2 separate regions of the Homo sapiens genome follow, and region 1 is reported to be linked to region 2. Evidence: microRNA targets listed by miRTarBase, many of them from high-throughput screens and not tested one by one. Region 2 holds a microRNA gene; the other region holds the end of a gene's coding sequence. Distances are from middle to middle.

Region 1 (7,000 bases), 10 Mb from region 2:
AGACTTCTCTTCCTCCAGGTCTCCCTCCTGAACCATGCTGGATGCCAGCCAGACCTTCCCCAGCCCGAGATGGCTGCATGTTCTGCAGTCTGAGGTCCAGGCCAGAGGGCATATATCCTAAAAATATTTTTTGAGGGCCCACTATGTGCTAAGTGCAATTCTGTCGGGGTTATACAAGCATTGAAAGGCAACCAAGACCCCTGCCCTCATGGAGTTTGCATTCAGTGAGCTGGAGAGCTGCTGGAGTTTTGAGCAGCAGTGAGACATAAATTCTAAAAGGATCATCCAGGCCAGGCACAGTGGCTCACACCTGTAATCCCAGCACTTTGGGAAGCTGAGGCGGGAGGATCACTTGAGGTCAGCAGTTCGAAAACAGCCTGGCAAAACCCTGTCTCTACTAAAAATACAAAAGTTAGCTGGGTGTGGTGGCGGGTGCCTGTAGTCTCAGCTACTCGGGTGGCTGAGGCATAAGAATCACTTGAATCCAGGAGGTGAAGTTTGCAGCGAGCTGACATCACTCCAGCCTAGGTGACAGAGTAAGACACTGTCTCAAAACAAACAAACAAATAAATAAAAGGATAATCCGGCTGTTTTGTTGAGGAGGTTGAGGGGTGAAGGGAGAAGCAGGAGGCCTCAGAGGGGTGGCTGCAATAACTTGGATGACAGTGGCGGAGGGTGGTTAGTGCGGAGGTGGTGAGGAATGGACAGCTTCTGGATATTCCTCAAATTTGCTAATGGATTTCGTGTGAGGTCAAGAGAAAGAAGAGTCAAGAATGACTCCAGGGCCTTTGGGCTGAGCAACAAGAAAAGGGGAATTGCAGTCTCCAGAAATGGGGAAGGCTAAGGGCAGAGCCTGTTTTGGGGGAAAATCAGCAGTTGGAGTGGACATTTGGGCTGGACATGCCCAGTAGACATCAGGTGTGGAGCAAGCGGGCAGCTGGGCACAAAGTGAGAGCCTATGCCCCCTCCTTGCTGAGACTCGGGCACTCACTAAGGCAAAACCAAAGTCCACCGGCAGGTGGTGGGAGGGAAGGGGAGCTCCAGAGCTGAGGCCTGGGTGTCCGAAGGGAGGTGGCTGTTGCCTTTAAGAAGGCTGGGGAATCAGAAACCTGGAGGAAAGCAGATGGTGCCACCAGTGTGAATCGAGACCGCTGTCTAGTTCCCAACCTGAAGGTGTCCTGTCAGGCGTTCTGAGCCCCAGTTAATCGAGAATGCCCGACAAGTTTTCCTCTGGGCGCTCTATGCTGTGCAAGATCAGGAAAGTGCTATCTAGAACATGGCAAAGAGATCTTGCTGTCCTGAGAGTCAGACACCTTGAAAAACCCTACACTAGAGGCATCCTTAGCCCCAGTTCACAGAAGGGACCTGTCTAATGCCACTGAGTCAGTACCAACTGCTGGGAGCAAAGCCTGGTCTTTGGTGGAGCCCAGGCCCTCAGCATGCACCGAGGTTCCTCTTAGAGCAGGCACCTGACTCCTAGCCTGGGCTGTGGGACTCAGTCCCTTCACAGTGGAAAATGTGGCTCTAGACTTGCTTCTGCCTCCCTAGTATCAGGAGCTTCTTTAACATCAGTACTGACCGCAAGGTTGCCACAAGGAGGTGAAGAGCTAACGAAGTTCTGCACATAAAATTCTTGGCCCACTACCTGGCACAGAGAAAATGTTCCCTATATAACAGCTGGCTGGGGGGCAGTAAAAGATGCAGTAACTTCTTTTACTTACTTAAGCCTTTTTTTTTCTTAAGTTGTAAAAATGAATGCATTTATAGAAATAAAGGGGAACAGCCCACCCACTCTGCTTGACCGACTTACACATTCAAGTTGCACAGATTTATTTCTTCTGCTGGATTATTTCCTCAGGATAAATTCCCTGCAGTAGAATTATTAGGCCAAGAGGTCAGAGCCCTTTTCTGGATCTTAATCAGGGTTGCCATAATGCTTCCCAGGAAAAGATTCTCCCAGTTTACTTTTTACTCAATACTTGGGATGAAGTTCATATTTTTTTCTTACAGTTTTACTTTTTTCTTTACTAATTCAGTAGATGCACTATAATTTTTATTATTTTCTTTTTGAGACAGAGTCTCACTCTGTAATCCAAGCTGGAGTGCAGTGGCATGATCTCAGCTCACTGCAACCTCTGCCTCCTGGGTTCAAGTGATTCTCGTGCCTCAGCCTCCCAAGTAGCTGGAATTAAAGGCATGTGCCACCGTGCCCAGCTAATTTTTTTTTAGTAGAGACAGGGTTTTGTCGTGTTGGTCAGGCTGGTCACGAACTCCTGACCTCAAGTGATCTGCCCGCCTCAGCCTCCCAAAGTGCTGGGATTACAGGTGTGAGCTACCGCACCTGGCCCATGTGCACCATAATTAATTTACTTCCTTTAAAAACCAAGTAGGAATACTTTTGTAAATGCTTGCTTTTTCTTTTTAGTGTTTACTTTTAAAATTTGCTTAAGGGTAAATTGCCTGTTCATAGCCTTTGCCTATTTATCATTGACTCTTTAATCAACAAATATTAACTGATCATCTACACTATGAGAGGTGCCCAGGAACATCTGTTTTAAATGAACCTTGAAAATACCATGCAATGAACTTCTTTGTTATTACATTTAGTTCATATTTTTCCCTAGTCTAATGGTCTATTTAATATTTTATTACTCTACATTAAGTTTTAAAAATGTATATAATCAGATTTGTGTCATGTTTTCCCTGTGTGGTGTTCTTCCTATTAGAGGATTTATGCTTAGAAGGTTATCACCCCATATCTAATCAATACTTAATTCCATTTAATATTTAATTATATGGTTTTCCTTTTAAAATTCTAAGTCTTTAATCCAATATCTCTGAATTAAACACTAGTCTACCAAAACTATGTATGTAGAATGCAATATTCAAAAAAAGCAAACCAAAACAAAAACAAAATGTTCACATAAGTATGGGACAGCTGACTTTCACAAAGTTGATTAAACTTCCCTACAAGGATGCCTCAGAGACTTGACATGCTAATGAATCTTGCTAGTCTCCAGGACGGGGGAGGACTGGCAAGATCAGTACAAAATATTCCTCAAATGTTGTGATCATGGACTCCTTTGTTGGTGAAGCACCACTTGGGGTGTCACGCTTTGACAATAAAGTGACGATTTTTGTCTGCTTTACTCCCTGCTGTATTCCTAGTACATAGTAGATGCTCAGGAAATATCACAGAGTTGAGCAAACAAATGAGCACATGCACAGTTAAATATAACAGATCTCATCTAGTACAGCAATACTGAGCCACATCTCTAAGGTGCAGGGAGGTGTGGGGACTTCGCATGGTTCCCTGCTGTACCTAGGGCTTAGAATAAGGCCTAGGACAAACATTTGCTGAATAAATGAATGCATAAAGGAATGAGTCACTTGCACAGCCCAGCACCTGACTTACAGTCCCTAACATCCCTCCTTAAATGGAAGTGGGAATATATCACCCAGGTAAGAGTACAGAACCCTTGGTCATGACCTGAGGCAGCTCTGAAGGTAGATCCAGGCATCAGAGACCAGAGCCTCAGGAACACCCATTTGGAGGTGCCAGGGACCTCATGAGGTTCACAGGTGACTTTTCATACCACTGTCAGAAGCCCAGCTACGCCCAGCTACGCCCAGCCAGGAAATGGCAGGCATCCCACCCAGGGGAGGCTGAGGACCAGATGACTTTGGCACTGCCCAGGATAGCCAAGTGAGGCTCCAAATCTTTCCCTTAAACACAGCCTGGAGTTGCCTGGGGCCTGCCATGAATACTATACTTCGGGTGGTGCTAGGGCAGGGCCTCACACCATAGATACTGAATACCCTGAGCCTTTGGGACAGGAGAGGTCTCTTAGGATGGCAGTGGCTCTCCATCTGATGAGCACACTGCCAACTTCATTGCCATCCTAATATTGATGCCCAGTCCTTCCTACTTACCTTCCACTTGCCACTCAGCTGTGCACCAGCGTGAAGTGTTCCAGACCAACCTTTGCTGAATAGGAACCTAAATTAGTGTAAGGTTCATGGGGAAAGCTCTCCTGTAGAGCCACGCTTGGGTGTGCGGGGGAAACGGGTAAAGGTAGCCATCAATACAGTCTGCTTCTAATCGCTGAGGGGACACTGACCCTCACCCACTATGCCCAGCATCTAGAACAGCAAAGTACAATGAGTGTTCAAGAAAGAGATCCCAAAGCCTAGCCCAGGAGCATTGGTGACAGTTTCCAAATATTACCCAGGGGTAATATTTCCTTTCAGAGTGCCCAGCGCAGCCCCAGAGAGTCCTGTGTTACCTCAAGTGCAAGTCCCGCCAGCAGTTTAGGGAAAATGAACCCCCTACACCAATCCCTGTGTGTGAGGTTTTAGAAGCTTCCACGGCAAAGAAGAGAGGAAACAATGAGCTTTATAAAGAACAATATTTATTTCCATTTACAGCATCAAATACCATAAATAAAGCTAAACATTGTTTGTTTTGCTGTGTGCAAAATACAGGGTTCCGTGTGGCACTGTAAATGATTACCAAAGGTCACAGACATGCGTTGTGATGAGATGGGGAGGCTAGCTAAAGAGGAGGCTGAGAGGGGAGGAGGGCACTCTTTGGTTGACATTCTATAAAGGGAGGGAGACTCTGTAAGAGAAGATAAGACAAGAGCAACGACTTTGTACTGGCCAGGATCTGCACAAATACAGTGAGCGTGCAGCATGCAGGGCCAGGCAGGCAGGCCCGGGGGTCAGGGTGGTCTGGGCCACATGCAGGACAGACGCCCACCGCAGCCTGAGACCGCGAGTGTTGCCTAGGACAGCTCCACGGTGCTTGGTGTGTTGTTTCTCGTTAAGAGTGTGTTGGTGATTATCCTGCTGCCCCAGGTACAAGAGTCAGCAGAAATGTGTGCTTTAAGCAGAGTCACAGGGGCCTGGGGCTGAACTGAGTCATTTCTCAAAGATATCCCTGCCTGGGATGATGATGGCTCTAATTGAAGCTCTGGCATCATCTGGGGCTTTATGAGCCAAGGGAGATAAGAAGAGCCACAGCAAAACCCTTGGGTCTACAGTGCAGGCTGCAACCAAGGCAGCATTTGCTAGAATATTTGTGATTATGTGTTCAACCTACAGAGCATGTGTCAAGCTTGGGATGAGGCCTGAGAGTAATTAAGTTTTTTAAATCCCTCCAAATAATCACCTATGGTTTTGATAAATGACATTAACAATCTTTACATTAGAGCCAATTTAAGAAGGCGCTGGTATGTATGAGCTTTTTGAGGCTGCTCAAAAAGTGTTCTTTTCAAAGGTGACAGAGGCCCCCTCATGGTATTGTTTCATGATCAAGGTCGACCCTCCCAAGAAAGTAGGTAGCTTCGCAGACGCAACTGGAGAAGCATGCACGCAGGCAGACCCAAGGGAGAGAGGAGAGGCGGGGCATGCACTTGGGGTAGACCAGGCTGCCAGCTCCATGGGAAATGAACACAGGCATGGGTCTCAAGCTGAACACCCCCCGCCATGCTGTTAGCCAACCATGCCACCAAATGAGTCCATCAGTATGCAAGACACTCACAGTTAGTGCAACCAGTACTGCTGGCGGAGAGGACGGGGTGCGGAAAGCGGGTTGGGGGTTAGTACCACTCTTTGAAAATTGGCAAGAAAACCAGTCACCTTAGAGCAGAAGTGTGTCAGCCAAGAAGTGGGTGTAGCACTGGAAGGCTGAAATGAACTGATGGCCATGGCGTAAGATTGGAAAGAGAGAGAAAGATAGAAAAGAGAGCTTAGTGTGGGGAAAAAAGGAAATGATTAACATCACGAGAAGGCACCGGAGTTGAAAATAAGGCCACGATTGAAAGAGGGAAACTTCCTCTGAAAGAGTCGCTGTTTGCTTAGGAGAGATGAACCTTTCTGGTTGTGACCAGCTACTTGTTTACGAGAGTGGATGCACACAGTTTGCATCTTGCTCCCTGATATCCTCTCTGCCCCCATTTTACTCTAGCGTCTCCCATTCATTCTTGAATATGTTGCGGAGGCCTAGAGGCATTCATCCTCGGGGGTCCACCCCTGGGTGTCGGTGCTGCCCACCAGAAAGGTTCAACATCTCAGAGCGTACAAACATCTCAGATTTCTGACAGGCACGCCCTGTCTCGCCACAGTAATTCAAACCAGTCTCCTTATGGCTGTACACGACAGTCAGAGATTCCGACTCGGGCTTCATGGAACACTCCACAAAGCATCTCAGCCTATCCTGAGCTGAAGATAATCACAATAACATGGCCGTTCACATCATGACCTCAAAAATTTACTTTCTATACTCAAACAAAAGGAATCAAGGGTTCCTCCCACCATGCTGAACATTAAAATCCCAGCAAAAATTGGAGAAAACACAATGCAAGTCATCGGACTGAGAACAGTGCCAACAAGGACAGAGGCGCCAGTTCCCACAGAGTTGGCCACGGCCATGCCTCTGTTTTTCCCAAGGATTTCAGGGAAGTGTTTGTAGAAATGCACCTCCTTCTTCCCGCCCCATAGAAACTGTCATCTCAAAGCTCTCAAAGGTTCTGACTCCTCACCCACACCCAGGCACACCTCTTAGTTAATCCAGAGGCATCTCTAGTGATAACTCCACAGAGCTATCTTGGGCCCAGCAACTCCAGATACACTGCGCACCGTAGATGGCCTTTCTCTGGCGGCCCCTTGATTGTTCAGCCAGACCCTGCAGCTGTGTATGTCTAGGCAGCGTGGAGTAGGGAGAGCTGAGGACTCTTCTAGATACCCAGAGTAAGAACACAGGTGGACCTGCATGCTCATTTTTACCCTTACTCATGCATATGTCCTTTGGATCAGTCCATAAATAGCTTCCACTCCCAGCCTTCCCTGCCAGTCAAGATATGGTAGAGCTTCCCCTGGAGGTCAGACCCATTCCTTTCCCAGGGCAGTGTGAAATTGGTTTCTGTTTTGACCACATATGTGTGGCAGCGGAGCAGCTAAGCAGTCAGGATGTCCACAGGCAATGCTCACTGGGCAG
Region 2 (7,238 bases):
GAGATGCTAATTTAGGAGCTTGAGATGCTAAAGAGCTGGGAGTGCCACTGCTGCTTTATTCTGGGGTCTAGGATCCTTGTGTTGGCTGAGATAATCTGCTAATGTGGGTGCAGCAGACATCCCGCGGTTTGTGGAATCGATAAAGGATGGGGATCAATGGTGTTTGTGCACTGTGCGGTCTGTGCCCAATTGCCTGCCTTGTGCTGTGGAATCTGTACATCTGGCCAACATGTGCTTGTGTGAGCCTGACAGTGCATTTTCCAGAGCCTCACCTCGGCTCTGCCCTGGAGGCTCTGTGCTGCTGGAATCAGACTCAAGGACCTCATCAGAGGACCATGGCCCCGTATCACCTGGGTCAGGCACTGAAGCTGGGACAGGAGAGCAGAGACTTCCAAAATGAGGGATCCCTGTGTTCTGAGGTGATCATGACTGGGACCCAAGGACTCAAGCGCATGCTCCAGAGGGAATCGTTTCCCACAAGGCCTTTGGCAGGAACAGGGATCCTGGGAGCCTGCCAAGCAGAGCGCACAGTGTTCCTGGAGTCTCGCTGCCCAGATGCCACGGAATCAGTTGAAGGTATGGAAACACAGGTGGCCACGTGGTAGCAGGGCAGGCTCAGGCGTCATAGCCCGAGCCCGGCTACCTGTGGTTTGCCTGCAGAAACATCCCGGGTCAACAGGCCAGGCACCGCATTGGTTCGCGAGGGTCATCGGGGGTAGGACCCTTGTACGAGCCACATCGGGCTACGTGCCTGATTCACCCCAGGGTGCACTGTTGAAGGTTGGGGAGATGAGAGGAGATACTTGGGGGACAGTGAAGTGTCCCCATTCTTTGGATGATGGGGATCTCGGCCTCAGCGTGAGACCCCTCCCACAGGGTCTCTGGCAGGCTCAAGAGCCCAGGGGCTCTTGCATAGCACATGAATATTTCTGGAGGCTTCCCCTTCAGTCTCACCACCCGGATGGTGCAGAATTGGTTGTAGCTGTGGAATCGGAAGTGGCCGCGTGGCGGCAGTGCAGGCTCACACATCACAGCCCGAGCCCGCCCCAGCTGGGGTTCGCCCGCGGAAACGTCCCGGGTCCCGCAAGCCAGGCGCCGCAGGGTTCACGGGGGTCATCAGGGATAGGACATTCATGGGAGCCACATCGGGCTATGTGTCTGATTCACCCCAGGGTGCACTATTGAGGGTTGGGGAGATGAGAGGAGATACTTGGGGGACAATGAAGTGTCCCCATTCTTTGGATGATGGGGATCTTGGCCTCAGGGTGAGATCCTTCTTGCAGGGTCTCTGGCAGGCACAGAGCCCGGGGGCTCTTGCATAGCACATGTGTATTTCTGGAGGCTTCCCCTTCAGTCTCACCGCCCGGATGGCACAGAATTGGTTGTAGTTGTGGAATCGGAGGTGGCTGCGCGGCGGCAGTGCAGGCTCACACATCACAGCCTGAGCCCGCCCCAGCTGGGGTTCGCCCGTGGAAACATCCCAGGTCATCCAAGCCGGGCGCCACAGGGTTCACAGGGGTCGTGAGGTATAGGACACTCATGGGAGCCATATCGGGCTACGTGTCTGATTCACCCCAGGGTGCACTGTTGAAGGTTGGGGAGATGGGAGGAGATACTAGGGGAACAATGAGGTGTCCCAGTTCCATGGATGATGGGGATCTCGGCCCTAGTGTGAAACCCTTCTCGCAGGGTCTCTGGCAGGCACAGAGCCCGGGGGCTCTTGCATAGCACATGGGTATTTCTGGAGGCTTCTCCTTCGGTCTCACCGCCTGGATGGCACGGAATTGGTTGTAGTTGTGGAATCGGAAGTGGCCGCGCGGCGGCAGTGCAGGCTCACACATCACAGCCCGAGCCCGCCCCAACTGGGGTTCGCCCGTGGAAACGTCCCGGGTCACCCAAGCCACGCGTCGCAGGGTTCACGGGGGTCATCTGGGAATAGGACACTCATGGGAGCCGCACCAGATCTTCAGGTCGGGCATTATCCACAGCCCCGTGGCCCCGGGTCACACTCCGAGGGCTTCAGTGTCATGGCCTGGGACTCAAGTCACGCCTACTTATGTGATGATCACAGTGTGTTCCACCAAAATCTTACATTTTCCACATCTATCCCAGAGCACAGCTCCGACTCCGTCTAAGGACAGCCCCCAAATCCCCAGCCTTTTACTGAACTGACAATTGCCTCCCCAGTGAACACTCTGATCTCCTCAGCCCTAAGTGGCCAGACATTAACATTCTCATTCAATGCAGGTTTGAGGTGCTAATTCAGGAGCTTAAGATGCTAAAGAGCTGGGAGCGCCACTGCTGCTTTATTCTCTGGTCCAGGATCCTTGTGTTGCTGGAGATAATCCATTATCGTGGGTGCAGCAGACACCCTGCGGCTTGTGGACTCGGTACGGGGTGGGGATCCTGATGGGGTTAGGATGTTCGATGGCTCGGGTGTGCTCCACGCTCAGGGATCATCACGTCCGGCCGGCGGTAGTTGGCACGTGGAGAGGTGAATTTGCCCACAGGTGTTCCCCGTGCCTGCGCATTGCTGGCAGCACGACCGGATCCTGTGCTAGCCCCTCCCACAATGCCTGGAGCAGGAGCGAGGGGCCTGGGGAGCCGCCTTGCCTGGAGCATTTGTATTTCCGGAGTATTTCCTGAGTCTCCCCTTGGGTCTTGGGTGCTGTCCCCAGTGAGCCCATCTCCCAGCGATGGCACAGAATCGGTTGTGGCTGTGGAGACGGAAATGGCCGAGAGGCGGCAGTGGTGACTCACATCACAGTCTGAAGGTGACCCAAGGCTGGACTCCACTTTTAGCAAAATGTGGGGGTCTGCCTTGGTCTCCTAACTTGGGGGTCCACTCATGGAAAAGCCTGAGAATTTTCATGCCATGGAAATTCCCCCATGTCGTGGGGTTCACGCACGACAAAGCCCGGCGGTCAGTGCTCAGCAGGCAAGCACTCAGCCCTTTCCGGTGGGGCCATGGGAACAGAGGGTTTGCCGAAGGCGCGGCCAGCCCTTCCACATCCCAGAGGGCCTGCTGGGTGATTGGACCCGTGAACTCTGGGTCCCTTGGCCCTGGTGCTCCCCTTCACGGCTTTGACACTCGAGACTTGAGGTGAACCCCAGGGACTGCAGGGCCCCAACAACCCTCACCAAAGGCCAAGGTGGTGACCGACGGACCCACAGCGGGGTGGCTGGGGGAGTCGAAACTCGCCAGTCTCCACTCCACTCCCAACCGTGGTGCCCCACGCGGGCCTGGGAGAGTCTGTGAGGCCGCCCACCGCTTGTCAGTAGAGTGCGCCCGCGAGCCGTAAGCACAGCCCGGCAACATGCGGTCTTCAGACAGGAAAGTGGCCGCGAATGGGACCGGGGTGCCCAGCGGCTGTGGGGACTCTGTCCTGCGGAAACCGCGGTGACCAGCACAAGCTCGGTCAACTGGATGGGAATCGGCCTGGGGGGCTGGCACCGCGCCCACCAGGGGGTTTGCGGCACTTCCCTCTGCCCCTCAGCACCCCACCCCTACTCTCCAGGAACGTGAGGTCTGAGCCGTGATGGTGGCAGGAAGGGGCCCTCTGTGCCATCCGAGTCCCCAGGGACCCGCAGCTGGCCCCCAGCCATGTGCAAAGTATGTGCAGGGCGCTGGCAGGCAGGGAGCAGCAGGCATGGTGTCCCCTGAGGGGAGACAGTGGTCTGGGAGGGAGAAGTCCTGGACCCTGAGGGAGGTGATGGGGCAATGCTCAGCCCTGTCTCCGGATGCCAAAGGAGGGGTGCGGGGAGGCCGTCTTTGGAGAATTCCAGGATGGGTGCTGGGTGAGAGAGACGTGTGCTGGAACTGTCCAGGGCGGAGGTGGGCCCTGCGGGGGCCCTCGGGAGGGCCCTGCTCTGATTGGCCGGCAGGGCAGGGGCGGGAATTCTGGGCGGGGCCACCCCAGTTAGAAAAAGCCCGGGCTAGGACCGAGGAGCAGGGTGAGGGAGGGGGTGGGATGGGTGGGGGGTAACGGGGGAAACTGGGGAAGTGGGGAACCGAGGGGCAACCAGGGGAAGATGGGGTGCTGGAGGAGAGCTTGTGGGAGCCAAGGAGCACCTTGGACATCTGGAGTCTGGCAGGAGTGATGACGGGTGGAGGGGCTAGCTCGAGGCAGGGCTGGTGGGGCCTGAGGCCAGTGAGGAGTGTGGAGTAGGCGCCCAGGCATCGTGCAGACAGGGCGACATCAGCTGGGGACGATGGGCCTGAGCTAGGGCTGGAAAGAAGGGGGAGCCAGGCATTCATCCCGGTCACTTTTGGTTACAGGACGTGGCAGCTGGTTGGACGAGGGGAGCTGGTGGGCAGGGTTTGATCCCAGGGCCTGGGCAACGGAGGTGTAGCTGGCAGCAGCGGGCAGGTGAGGACCCCATCTGCCGGGCAGGTGAGTCCCTTCCCTCCCCAGGCCTCGCTTCCCCAGCCTTCTGAAAGAAGGAGGTTTAGGGGATCGAGGGCTGGCGGGGAGAAGCAGACACCCTCCCAGCAGAGGGGCAGGATGGGGGCAGGAGAGTTAGCAAAGGTGACATCTTCTCGGGGGGAGCCGAGACTGCGCAAGGCTGGGGGGTTATGGGCCCGTTCCAGGCAGAAAGAGCAAGAGGGCAGGGAGGGAGCACAGGGGTGGCCAGCGTAGGGTCCAGCACGTGGGGTGGTACCCCAGGCCTGGGTCAGACAGGGACATGGCAGGGGACACAGGACAGAGGGGTCCCCAGCTGCCACCTCACCCACCGCAATTCATTTAGTAGCAGGCACAGGGGCAGCTCCGGCACGGCTTTCTCAGGCCTATGCCGGAGCCTCGAGGGCTGGAGAGCGGGAAGACAGGCAGTGCTCGGGGAGTTGCAGCAGGACGTCACCAGGAGGGCGAAGCGGCCACGGGAGGGGGGCCCCGGGACATTGCGCAGCAAGGAGGCTGCAGGGGCTCGGCCTGCGGGCGCCGGTCCCACGAGGCACTGCGGCCCAGGGTCTGGTGCGGAGAGGGCCCACAGTGGACTTGGTGACGCTGTATGCCCTCACCGCTCAGCCCCTGGGGCTGGCTTGGCAGACAGTACAGCATCCAGGGGAGTCAAGGGCATGGGGCGAGACCAGACTAGGCGAGGCGGGCGGGGCGGAGTGAATGAGCTCTCAGGAGGGAGGATGGTGCAGGCAGGGGTGAGGAGCGCAGCGGGCGGCGAGCGGGAGGCACTGGCCTCCAGAGCCCGTGGCCAAGGCGGGCCTCGCGGGCGGCGACGGAGCCGGGATCGGTGCCTCAGCGTTCGGGCTGGAGACGAGGGTGAGTTTTTCCCCCTCTGCCACCCTCAGCCCCCACCCGCCCCTCCCCACACAACCAACACGTTCTCCCCACACGACTCTCTCGTTCTCCCCACAGCCAGGTCTCCAGCTGGGGTGGACGTGCCCACCAGCTGCCGAAGGCCAAGACGCCAGGTCCGGTGGACGTGACAAGCAGGACATGACATGGTCCGGTGTGACGGCGAGGACAGAGGAGGCGCGTCCGGCCTTCCTGGTGAGCGTGTCTGCCCTCCCTGCGTCAGGACGCGGCCCTGCCCAGACCGCCCCGCCGGGCCACCATCTCACTGCCCCGACCTCTGTCTTCTACAGAACACCTTAGGCTGGTGGGGCTGCGGCAAGAAGCGGGTCTGTTTCTTTACTTCCTCCACGGAGTCGGCACACTATGGCTGCCCTCTGGGCTCCCAGAACCCACAACATGAAAGGTGAGGGGCTTCCTGCCACACTTGGGGTGGGGGGCACGCGAGAGGAGCTGAGTGGGACCTCACTCCTTCCCCATCCACAGAAATGGTGCTACCCAGCTCAAGCCTGGGCCTTTGAATCCGGACACAAAACCCTCTAGCTTGGAAATGAATATGCTGCACTTTACAACCACTGCACTACCTGACTCAGGAATCGGCTCTGGAAGGTGAGCACCAGCGCTCCTTCCGGAAGCCTCCAGGCCCCCGAGCACCCTGCCCCCATCCCACCCACGTGTCGCTATCTCTAGGTGAAGCTAGAGGAACCAGACCTCATCAGCCCAACATCAAAGACACCATCGGAACAGCAGCGCCCGCAGCACCCACCCCGCACCGGCGACTCCATCTTCATGGCCACCCCCTGCGGCGGACGGTTGACCACCAGCCACCACATCATCCCAGAGCTGAGCTCCTCCAGCGGGATGACGCCGTCCCCACCACCTCCCTCTTCTTCTTTTTCATCCTTCTGTCTCTTTGTTTCTGAGCTTTCCTGTCTTTCCTTTTTTCTGAGAGATTCAAAGCCTCCACGACTCTGTTTCCCCCGTCCCTTCTGAATTTAATTTGCACTAAGTCATTTGCACTGGTTGGAGTTGTGGAGACGGCCTTGAGTCTCAGTACGAGTGTGCGTGAGTGTGAGCCACCTTGGCAAGTGCCTGTGCAGGGCCCGGCCGCCCTCCATCTGGGCCGGGTGACTGGGCGCCGGCTGTGTGCCCGAGGCCTCACCCTGCCCTCGCCTAGTCTGGAAGCTCCGACCGACATCACGGAGCAGCCTTCAAGCATTCCATTACGCCCCATCTCGCTCTGTGCCCCTCCCCACCAGGGCTTCAGCAGGAGCCCTGGACTCATCATCAATAAACACTGTTACAGCAATTTGTCTCGAGGACTCTGGAATCCGGGCTGTGGGCATGATGTGGGGGAGGCCAGCCTTGGGCAGAGGGGGGCTGGGGGGCATGGGGAGGAGTACATGAAAAGGGGGATGGGGGTTCCAGGGTGGGGGATTCTGGGATGGGTGCAGCGCAGCACACACCAGGGGTGGGGTGAGCACAGGGTGTGTGGACCTCAGGGGTGCAGGGCAGGCGGTCAGCATGCAGTGATGGCAGTGGAGGGGCTGTGGGACCAGGGGCTTCACAGACTGGGCGGGGGCTGGGCTTGCGGAGGGGGCCTGCGCTCTGAGGCAGGGGTCGGGGACCACCAAACCATCCCCGAGCGAGTGCCTCCTGTCGCCCCAAAGTCCCATCAGAATGACGCCTTGGTGCTGGCCCCAGACCCCTGAAGCCCGGGCTAGGTGACTGGGGTAGAGCTGGCCATGGCCGCTCTGGGAGGCCCACAAGGTGCTCTGGGCGACCCCACCCCGACAGGGGCACGAACCCCGCGCCAGTCCCGTTCCTGCTCCCCTTTTGCTGTGGGTGGGAGCCGGGGCCACGCCGGAGGGACGGCCCCGCACAAGGAGCCAGGGGGTTGTGGGGGAGCCGGTGGGCTTCTCAGTGGGC

The links. The annotated mature microRNA hsa-miR-675-5p reads UGGUGCGGAGAGGGCCCACAGUG and lies in region 2 at 4,972-4,994, shown strand. An mRNA with a match to its seed (bases 2 to 7 or 8) in the 3' UTR can be bound and repressed. Matches are read on the target gene's strand: a 7mer-m8 pairs with bases 2 to 8, a 7mer-A1 pairs with bases 2 to 7 and ends in A, and an 8mer does both.
Region 1: the mRNA of MICAL2 is a reported target of hsa-miR-675-5p. The part of its 3' UTR that is shown has no 7-base or 8-base seed match.

What each region holds. Positions count from the first base shown.
Region 1 is chr11:12,261,181-12,268,180 of GRCh38, reverse strand. MICAL2 (microtubule associated monooxygenase, calponin and LIM domain containing 2) reads right to left here. Exons shown (of 28, transcript NM_001282663.2): 27 at 5,644-5,701; 28 at 4,396-4,621. The coding sequence ends at 5,661. Among named protein-coding and RNA genes, the nearest start is that of MIR6124, 100 kb to the right of the region's middle.
Region 2 is chr11:1,994,556-2,001,793 of GRCh38, reverse strand. MIR675 (microRNA 675) reads left to right here and starts at 4,963; the gene lies at 4,963-5,035. H19 (H19 imprinted maternally expressed transcript) reads left to right here and starts at 3,952. Exons shown (of 5, transcript NR_002196.3): 1 at 3,952-5,276; 2 at 5,373-5,507; 3 at 5,603-5,715; 4 at 5,796-5,918; 5 at 6,000-6,618. It also overlaps a transcript of MRPL23 not described here. RefSeq lists enhancers at 1-199, 200-1,047, 1,897-2,743, 2,744-3,592, 3,593-4,440.